Regions from separate parts of the Homo sapiens genome. Here region 1 is linked to region 2. The links come from fine-mapping of genetic effects on gene expression. Tissue or cell type: esophagus muscle. Region 2 holds a variant in brackets; the other region holds the start of a gene. All regions are shown on one strand. Distances are between the middles of the regions.

The links. PIP is the estimated chance that this variant, and not a neighbour inherited with it, causes the effect.
Region 1: SLC5A7 starts here. The variant in region 2 is the best candidate, but not a certain one, in a credible set for the expression of SLC5A7 in esophagus muscle (GTEx, PIP 0.69).

What each region holds. Positions count from the first base shown.
Region 1 is chr2:107,984,172-107,989,398 of GRCh38, reverse strand. SLC5A7 (solute carrier family 5 member 7) reads right to left here and starts at 2,875. Exons shown (of 9, transcript NM_021815.5): 1 at 2,636-2,875; 2 at 1,066-1,294. The coding sequence starts at 1,243.
Region 2 is chr2:108,055,778-108,061,004 of GRCh38, reverse strand. No RefSeq gene overlaps it. Among named protein-coding and RNA genes, the nearest start is that of LINC01593, 5.6 kb to the right of the region's middle. The variant A/G (reference allele first, on the strand shown) is at 2,768.

The DNA.
Region 1 (5,227 bases), 72 kb after region 2:
GGGTTCAGAACATGAATGGCCTCTCCCCAGACTGGTTTGGTAAACTATCTGATATACACGGTGAATCATTTTAAAATTGCCCTTCGGGACTGAAATTGGGCATCACTTGATATCATTTCCCATGGGATATTTTTCCAATGAACGCTCACAGTTCTTGCTATGTTGCAAATGTTTAAAAACTCTACTAAGACTGTATAATGAAATATGTGTTGTTAGTGCAACTGTATTAAATATTAAACATATAATTCTAAGTTGATGTTTTTCAGAATTATTTTCAACGACCAAGAAGAATATAAAAAAGAAACAAATCACCCTTTAAACAGAACCACTTTAGTGCAAAGTAAGAAAGAATATCAGCTCCTGCTAACACAAAGAAGGTTTGAATGAGAGATGACTGCAGATGGTGGCCTGGGGATTCCTATGAGGACACACCCTAGCTTTTCCCTTTTATAACAAGGTTCATGAAATCTCTTTATTAGTGCTGTGGACTCATAACATGTGATTGTCTTCCTGTGAGGAATTAGTTATTAAATGAAAGAATTAGGTTTCAAAACAGGGAATCACTCAATTGGGAATATCATCACCCCCAAATTTATTTATGCAGATTAAAAACCATCACTAGATGGTATTCATTGGCACTTATTTAAATCTCAAAGTCACAACTTTATGCATGTATTACCGGACACGTTGAGATGCTGCCTATCACATTAATTAGCAGATACATAGCTTGTAATACTAGGACAGCTTCCCATTCCCCCACCTCTTTGTTTTTACTCTGTTTCCACCCACTCAATAGCCCAGGGAGCCAAGATTTGTTTCATGACTGTTCAGTCCAGTGATTTATTATAAAATCATTTTTGTTCAAGTACTACTGAGTTGAAACCAATTTATTTTTAGGTTTTAAATCAATAGAAAATTATTTTAAAATATATATAACTAGTGAACATAAAGAATCCCCAAAGGACAAAGACCAACATTTGCTTTGTCACTCTGAAGCCACACGCTGCACACTCACAGATGCCAAGGAAGGGAGGACTGCATGGAGCCGGCGGCGTCTGAACGTACCTGTCATGGTAAATCCACCAACCAATAAACCAATATCTCGGCCACCAACTATGATGGCTTCGCTGCGCTCTTCTGCGCTGCCACTGTTTTTGGTTCTCCAGGCAGCCCATATTCCAACCAGCAAAATTAGAAGGTAGAACACGATGATAGCTATCAGTCCTTCCACATGGAAAGCCATTTTTATCTAATGATCCAGATTCTTCTGCAGCTGGCTACTTCATTAAGTCTTCTGAAGAAAATACAGGGATGCATTATAAACCAGTCAAGCACTATGCACATGTAGGCAGCCAGGAATAAACCAGCTGGCTCATGCGAGATCCTGTGCCACTCACAGAAAGAGTACAACCCTGAAACCACACGTGAAACGGGCAGTTAACAATAAGTGTCCACTACATTATCCTACTTCTATTTAACAATTTAACATTATTTTGAGTTTGCAAGAAACAGAAAAAAAAACGGAAATGTAGTTTAACAAATGGAATCATAATCCTTGTGTGTTTCATACATGCTTTAAATTTAAAATTAACCTTGTCGTGTATATCTTAACTCAGTAACTGTCAAATCATTTACAAAGAGTAGCGCTGTATCTGCGTTTTGGAACTAAGTTACTCTTCTAGAATTATTTATTCTAGAAGTGTTAAGTGTTTCATAAATGACCATTCTGAAAATTTTAAAATATTCATTAATTTATTCATTCTTTTATCTGTCCTTTCAAACAACTTCAGAGAATGGCTTCAGTAGTAATCTGATATAAAAATATCTGAAAAAAATCTTTAGAAAAATCCATTTCAAAAACACATCAAACTCCACATTTTCAACAAGCTTCTGTAGTTCAAGTTACTATAGCAACTAAGTATGTTTTTTGTTGTTGAAAGGATCCATTCTCTTGATCTTCTTCGCCCAATATCCTTCATTCAATTCATCACCCCCCATTAATGGTACATACAGGAAAAGGTTTTGTTGTTGTTGTTGCTGTTGTTTTAAACACAATTGCCTAAAAGCACATCAGAAGCCTCAAAGATATTAAAATCAAGACTCTTAGAAGACAGATGTCAAGTTCGAAAGCATTCACCTTCTGAAATTCTTGTCCCCTTTTATTTTTATTTTTATTTATTTTTTACCTTTGTGACCACAGCTGTTCCATGAACCCAAACTCTCACATACAAGTTTCTGGGGGAAACTCTGACATTTGTGCGTGCAGGTGGGTGAAGAGACGTTGGGGGAAAGAATCAGCCTCTCTGGAATTTAAAGGAGGCAAAAGAAGCGCCCGCGGGCTGTGTCTTCTCTGCCTTTGTGAGCAACCAAGCAGGCAAGTTCCTCTCCGCAGCAGCCCGATGCTCTCCCGGCCCCCTGCGGCCTTTCCTCGGCCCCCTCTACCCATTTCCTGCGCCCAGACTTTGTAGCCTCTTGCACCCTGACAGCAACGGTGCCAGACAGCAAACCCGCCCTCGCATCCCACCGAGAGGGAAAAACGCCGCGTCCCTCCCCTCTAAAACCGCCCGGGCTCGGTGCCCAAGGCGTTTCCGAGGGTGCGGGCCCGTAGGCGCAGGAATGCCCGCTCCGCTCCTACCTGGAGTGGTGGCTGCACGCGAAAGCGCTCCGCCCGGGGCCGCCGCCCCCTGGAACCGCGAGGGGTGTGGGTGCGAGGGTGCAGAAAGGGAGGGTGCGGGGTGGGTCGGGGTGCAGTGCGGAGCGGGGCCGGGCGGTCAGGGCGGCTCCTCACTCGGCGTCTCCAAGAACCTGGGAGCGCGCAGAGTTGACAGGTGTTGGCGCCGGCGGAGGGCGCGCGGCGCAGGGCGAGGTGGGAATCGATCGAGTATTGGGAAAAGTCCCCTTTATAAGGGCGGCAGGCGGGGGCGATCGTCAGACATCCGGAGGCGGACGTCAGAGGAGAGTGGTGCTAGGGCGTGTGCTAGGGACGCTGCCCTCGCGAGGAGGGTGGGTGTGCGGGATGCGAAGGAAACGGGGCCCAAGGAGCTGGGGGGCAGGCTGGGCTCTGGTCCGCGCTGCCAGCCATGGTATCCCCATCCTGAGACAAGTACCTGCTACTCCCATCTCCTCCTCCAGAAAACTGGGCGGAGATTCCTTAGGGTGATTCCCAGTCGAACTTCTCATCCCTCTGGTTGGAAGCTGGGAATGGGGAGGGTCTCAGAGGATTATATTTTCAGAAGCAGCAGCTGGAAGCCTAGAGGAGAGAAGTGTCCTGTTCTTTTCTTCCCAGGTCAGAGTCTGGAATTGTTTCCTGACGAGTCTCTCTGAGAGGGAAGGGGTCCTCTCCCGCGGCCTCCCCTGGGCCCTGTTGGAAGCTGTTCCTGGCGTCCCTGGTGATGGGCTCCCTGAAGGAGACATTTCAGGAAGGTTTAGAAAGTCCTTTTTACATTCATACCCCTGCCACTTAAAAGTAGGGCTACCATGAAGGACACTAGGCGTGGTCCAGATTAACAATGAGGTTATCACAGAAGTCAGACAAGATGGCTTTCCTGGTAGAGCCCTTTGGGCAGCTGGCCTGCTGAATATCCTATTCCAGCTTACAAAAATTTGCTGTGTTAGTTTACAATATATCCATATACCTACCTATTTTTATAGATTATTTATATATTACACATATAAATATGTATCTATAGATGTATTTCTACATCTAGGTGTACATGGATAGATGCAGATACCTGTGTGAATGTGAATGGAGGAAGAGAGAAGGGTGGGAGAGAATAAGATAGAAGAGTCACAAGCCACAAAGCTACAAGCACTCTGGCCACTTTCTCACTTCTTTCCGCATTCCACCATGAGAGTGTATTTAACAGTGAAATACACAAGTCTAATAAGGGATAGAATAAATAAGAGTGCCTCTGAACTACTGTTCACCTCTCTAGGCCAATCAGACCATCTCCCCTTTTCTTACACTGGATTTTGAAATTAACTTCCAAATTTATGTTACTACCCCTTTTCTTTCTTCTCTGTATAAACAATAACTGCATCCAACTACCTCTTTTGAGGTGAGAAAGCCTAGGGAGTTCAAACAGAAATTAAGACGGGCCAAAAGGCCTGCAAAGATAGTTATTTCCCCTGGGTAATATGACTAGTTCATTGATTTTCTGGAAAAGACTTAGGTTGCCTTTTAATATAACCCCATTTTTACATACACATTTTATTAATTTAAGCAATTTTAAGGAACTGACAGAGCGAAACAGAGATGGGATTTCATATAATTACCCATGTGTTTTAAAAGAGGTTCATTCATTCATTCATCCATCCATTCATTCATTGTTTTTGTCTTCTATAACTCATTTTCTGATTCTGGGCCTTAGCCTCAGGTTAACTGATGTATTTCCTGCCAGAATATACTAATGATGATGATGACACACAGCTTATTGCTGTAGCAGGGCAGGCATGGGCAATTGCAGTGTCTGAAATAGTGCACAGGCCTAAGGTCAGGGAGCTTGACTCAGATCCAAAGAGAGACTGAAGAGGCAGCCGTCCTCAGAGAACATCACCAGCCTTTCGGTATGAGAATTGGGAGTGCAGCCAAAGCACACCTCCCAGAGCCCACCTAATCCACTTTGACAAGCCAGGCTTGCCAGACTATGGACTCAGTGCCAGATCTGAGAATGGACAATGACCTTGACAGTGGCCAAATTCTTGCCTGGCAGAGCGGCTGTCCTCCATGACAAGAAACACCAGTTGAAAATGACAACTGCTGATGAATTGAGTCTAGTTCTGGGGAGACATTTCCTCATTTGCTGAGTCCTTTGCGCTCCGTGTCTGATCTAAGGATGAAGCTGCATGTGAATTTCTGTGCCAAGGTGTAATTTCCCAGACACCCATTTCTCTTTTGTCTTTAATATTGGTACTTTAATGTGTACCTCTTCCTCCACTCTCCTGAGAATATGTTATCATGCACGGACTTAGGGAACTACATGTCAGTGGGAGATCAATTCCCGCTTTTGGGGAGAAAAAGCAGGTTTTGCATTTATAAATCATTTATTTTTTAAAAACACATTTTCTAAGTGCCTTTTACATTCTGAACACTGTTCTCAGTACTGAGAATACATGTAGAAAATTATACAAACCTTGCCCTCAAGTAACTTATCCATGAAAAGAAAGAAGGAACAAACAAGCAAAAGCTGCACTTCTATATACTATTGTAAGTGCTGAGAAGGATGTA
Region 2 (5,227 bases):
CTAATTAACCCATTTTATCACTTGCCTTAGGGGTTCTACAGGTACAGACTACAGAAAATGGAAAAATGATAGGTGGCAAAGGTGTTACTTGAAAAAACGTCTTTTGTTTTTGTTGATTTTTTTTAAAAAAGTTGTTCCTGGCACAGTTAAACACACCCTTATATTCTCTCTCATTTAATTTGGACAGAAACCTTGCAAAGTAGATATTTTGATATTCACTTTTACAGATAAGGAAAATAAAGTACAAACAGTTAAACTGTCCAAGGTCACACTGCAAATTAAGATTAAAGCTCAGGTTTAATCCCAAGGTCTGTGATTTCTCACAGTGCTTTTGAGCTCTTAGAAGACATGGGACATCTGTCATCTGATGATTCTTTCTAGTCACCTTTTAGACTTTGTGCCAACCCTAATTTTAAAAATATAGTCTTCTGAGACTGCTTCTAGGTTGACCAGATGCTTACAGAGAAAATACTGTTGAAAGTTCCATTCTCCCTAGGTAAGGCCTGGCCTGTTACACCAATAATTTTACCTGAGTTCATATTTTAGTTGCAGTAAGTGGCTTAATGGGTGATATTCTTTGATGACATTTTCATGTTGACAGGTAGTTTTGGTAATCCCAAACAAAGTAGTTAGTCATGTGAAAATGTCATATAGCCAGTCAAGGCTTGTTTGGGAGATATATTTGGATACAGATGGGATTGAGCACAAGGCATTCTAAAATGAGAGCATTATGGGCAGTCTGAGAAGGAAAGCAAGCCAAATCCAAATAGGACAGGGCTTGGCCTGATGAACTGAATGGCAGCTGCACTATACAAAGGGGCATTCACCGAGGCTCTGTTTAGATAATTAATGATGGGATGATGGGGAAAATAGTATTTTCTTACTGGTAAGCAATATGGAGTCACCAGCACTTTCCTACAGCAGACAGTAGTTCAGGGGCATCAGATGGAGCAGTGGAACCTGTTTTCAGTCTCTAAGGTATTGCGGCGGAGGCTGCCCCTGATGATAACATTTTTTTGTGATGGTCAGGAGTGGCCTAGAGTTGGAGTAGGCTTGGGACTGCAGGTCATGACAATCCCATGGTAGAATTAACATACAATCCCAGGTAGCCTTATTGCTGGACATAGGATGGCCACTAATAACCTAGGTTGCTCCTCTGCTGCCAAGTGTGCTTCTCATTGCACCTAAATGAATAGAAGATGAACATGAATATCATATATTGAATAACCCTTTGACTTCTGTGTGCAGCCACCCCAAGTGAATACTTGAGTTTCTTCTAAAGTGGCATGGTTTGTTTCCTGGTTCTAAATTGTTCATTTATGTATACAGGTGTCAGTAGTGATTGTTCATTTAAGTATACAGGTGTCAGTAGTGGTGTGATATTTTATTGCCCTATTATAATTTTTTTCTCATCTAATCCTCCCAAGTGCAAGTACTTATCTGAATTGCCCTTGCTTCTTTCATACCTAGCAATTAACAAGTGCTTAAATATGAATTTTGAATAAATCCTGGGTCAGTCCTTCTCTCTTCAGAGTAGGACACCAGATAATATTGAAAGAAGCATGACATAACTAATGGTGTCTGTAAATGCAGCTTCCTGAGATTATTCTGTAGTATCTGACAATTAATGCGTATCTTTACATGTCAACTTCACTAAAGTGGTGGACCTCACATGTTAGTGTACATATAATTACCTGGAGAGATTGTTAAAACTCAAATTTACAGCACTGCCACCAGAGTTCCTGGTTCATTCATTCTGGAATGGGGCCTGAGAATTTGCACTTGTAACAAGTTCACAGGTGATGCTGTTACTGCTGGTCAGGAGACCACACTTTGACAATCACTGCGTTAGGAGTAATTTAAGCATGTGAGATAAATGAAACTTGAGGTTGAAAGCAAATGCTTCAAAATCTGACATATAACATTTTTGGGCTTCCTTTCTTAAGAAATTATGCATAGTGTCTTTGTTGTTCCATATGAAATAGATGACTTACCCTTTAGTAAAAGTCAGGGGTAGATGATTAATTGTTAACTCAGTCTGAAATGTAGTGTTATTAGCAAAAGCCTTCCTTACTCCTCACTAATGTGCACTTATGACAATTTCTTCTAGAGGTAATCAGATATAATGTATGACTAATATCAATTAAGTTATGGTTCTAGTTTAGGATAGGCAGCAGTGCATCAAACCAGAAGCAGTCTCTATTAATTCCATTGGGCAGCATTCAGTGGAGTAGGAGGCACTGGCTACGAATAGCTCCCTTGCTTTTCCTCCAGCCTCTTTGCCTCCCTGCACTACTATGTAACCATCTAAGTGATCTGAATTCCCACCAGCACCAAACGATCACATATTTAGAATAGGTGAGGCAAAGGCCCAGCCTGCGTTCATATAAAGTCAGAGTTAAACTTTAAGGAATGCAACTTCAACATCAGCAACTGCGCTAGTTAAGGAAGCACATAAATCCAAGATGTACAGACCATGGCCTTGAAATCACCGTGTCTTATTAAATAAGCAAAACAATTTTCACTGATCTCAATGACATTATTGAACTTTTATTGATGCTGGACATTCCTAGATACAGTTATCACCTACTTCCAAATTATGGAGTCAGAGCAAGTGCATTTTATTACCTTTTTCCTTGTGTTTCCAATTTCTGAAATTATTCCCTCTTCTGGGACCTTTAACTTGCCCTCGTGGCTTAGGTTGTAAATAACAAGTAATAAAATAAAAATGAGATCATGGACAATGAAAACATCTCGTGGTCTCTCA[A/G]GTCGGACACAGAAGTGCTTTTGAGTAATTGGCTAGAGTATAAATTCATAATTTGACTCTTGCCTAAAAGCTCTATTTAGCTTCAGTGTAGTTGCTAAGCCCACATGCTTTGTGACACGTTCTCACAGAATGAGAACATAATGTACATTTCTGGAATTTTTTCCAAATTACTTTTAATCTTGAATTTCAATATGCTATTGAAAAATGTAGCTTCAAAAGTTCTTATGCATTGACTCTTAGGCACGAGATAAGCCTTTTTTCATTGAACAAATTGTGCTGTATATTGGGGGAAGATTTCTAGTAGCTTGTCATTGGTGAATGTAATCTGTGCAAAATGTGCCCACTGTCTTTTCTAGAAAACCTCATAGCTTGTTATTTGAAAAACATAAGCAGATAGGTATGTCTTTGATTGTGTGATGTAGGACATTATACTTCTAATATCATCATCATTCTCAGCGAAATGGCAGTTTGTGAATGTCAGACAGGACACGTGAGGAAATCTATTAGTTACTGGAAATGTACTTTCTGCCTAATATTGTGCTGGGTTCCTCCACATATGCCATTTTATGTAATTCTTTCATTAACTGTATAAGATAATTACTTCAATTTCATCAATAAGAAAATTGAGGTTCAGAAAAATTAGTAAATTATATCAATTTACTAATTTATAATCCTCAATTATATCAATTTACAATCCTCAATTATAGCACAGGGTTAAGGCACTGGTTTCAAACTCAGGTGTTTTCAACTCCAAAGCTGACGTGCTTTCTGCTGTTGTTCTCATACTTGGCTGCATATTAGAACTACCTGGAAAGTTTCAAAACAAAGTACTAATTCCTAGGTTCTCCCCTTAAGTAATTTTAACTCATTTGGGTTGGGGTTGAGGCCTGGATATTGGCATTTTAACAAAATGCCTCATGTCCAAGTGGTTCTAATGTGCATTAGTTATTAGTTGAGACCCCTGGATGTCCTTTCTGCTTATAGCATTCCGTAACCCTTTAAGCTGGTGGAGAATTGCGAAAGGACGTAATTTTTCAGACATTTGAAAATGGGCTTGAGACAAAGGAGGTGGACACTTCTGTCCTTGGTAAAGCCACTCCACCTTAAAACAACTGGAAAAGGAGGGCTCATGGAAGACACATATTGCTAGAATCTGCATTATGAAGTGAAAAGTCAATGTTTTGCATTTTAGATCAAATTAACTGGAACATATGTATGGATTTAAAAAATATTTTCATATGGTTATCCTGAAAATAAATGAAACAATGTAATTGAATGAGCTGGTAGAGGACATCACACTGAAGTCAAACACAAGATACAATAGCTATAAACCACATAAATCTCCAAATATTAATGAATTATAGAAAATACACAAATGTAAATATTTTTTCCTATTGCATTCACTGATTTTTCTGAATCCTCTAATTGGTAACTGCTATTTTTAAAGAAAGGAATTGAAAATGTAGGAAAGCATAATATTTGAGTTGGTTAAGAATAAAACTAAAAAGTATGAGGATGCAGTAAGTCTCATCTTGTCTAAATGTTTTGGATCCACTTAAAATGAGGATATTGCAGTGAGTTATTTTAAAAGAACATCTTTTAAAGTTAAGAGTTTGTATTATTTTAGAAATGAAGAGATAATTATTCTGATCAACAAATGATCAAATCAACTAAACAACCCTTCCATCCCAGATTTTTGAAGCCAAAAAAAAGGAAGAATATTAAGACAAAAATTGGGAATGAAGGCAAAATAATGCTAATTTATTTAAATTAGTCAACTTTTTACTTTAGTTATGTAGTCAGTGACATCCTAGATTTAAACACCTTTTGAAATAAGATTTTTGAAATGCATCAAAGAAGCAGGGTGTGGTGGCACACACTTATAGTTCCAGCTATGTGGGAGGCTGAGGAGGGAGGATCACTTGAGCCCAGGAGTTCAAGAGTAGCCTGGGCAACATAGTGAGCTCCCCCTCTGAAGAGATACTATGTGATGACTAAAGCAGTGAGTGTGGTATGTGGACTTGAAAGTGAAAGGAGCAAGGTGAAGGTCAAAATTGAATTGGAGGAAAAAACATCTTATTAAATGAAGCTTGTGATTCCCTTCAGATTCAGCAGTTGGTCAGAACGTTGCATGCTCCGAATGCCAATTTTCCTCCCCCTCCCCAGCAATTTAATCCAGAAAGTAAAGAATTGGGATAAAATTATGGGTCCCAGGTTGAATGTGCTGTTATCATAATATGTGTAAGAAGGGAGACGAGATGATTTCCTTTAAAATTTGATTTTTATAAAATAGTTCAGATTATCTGAGATAACCTTTAATACCTTTTCCTGCTGAAAAACTCCTTGAAATTCTCTGAAATATAGCTCTGTTCATTATCTCTTTCAGAGAAGCTGCCCATATGGTCGTCACCTCATGGAATACACTCAAACCTTTTTATCACCACAGGCAAAATTCATGGG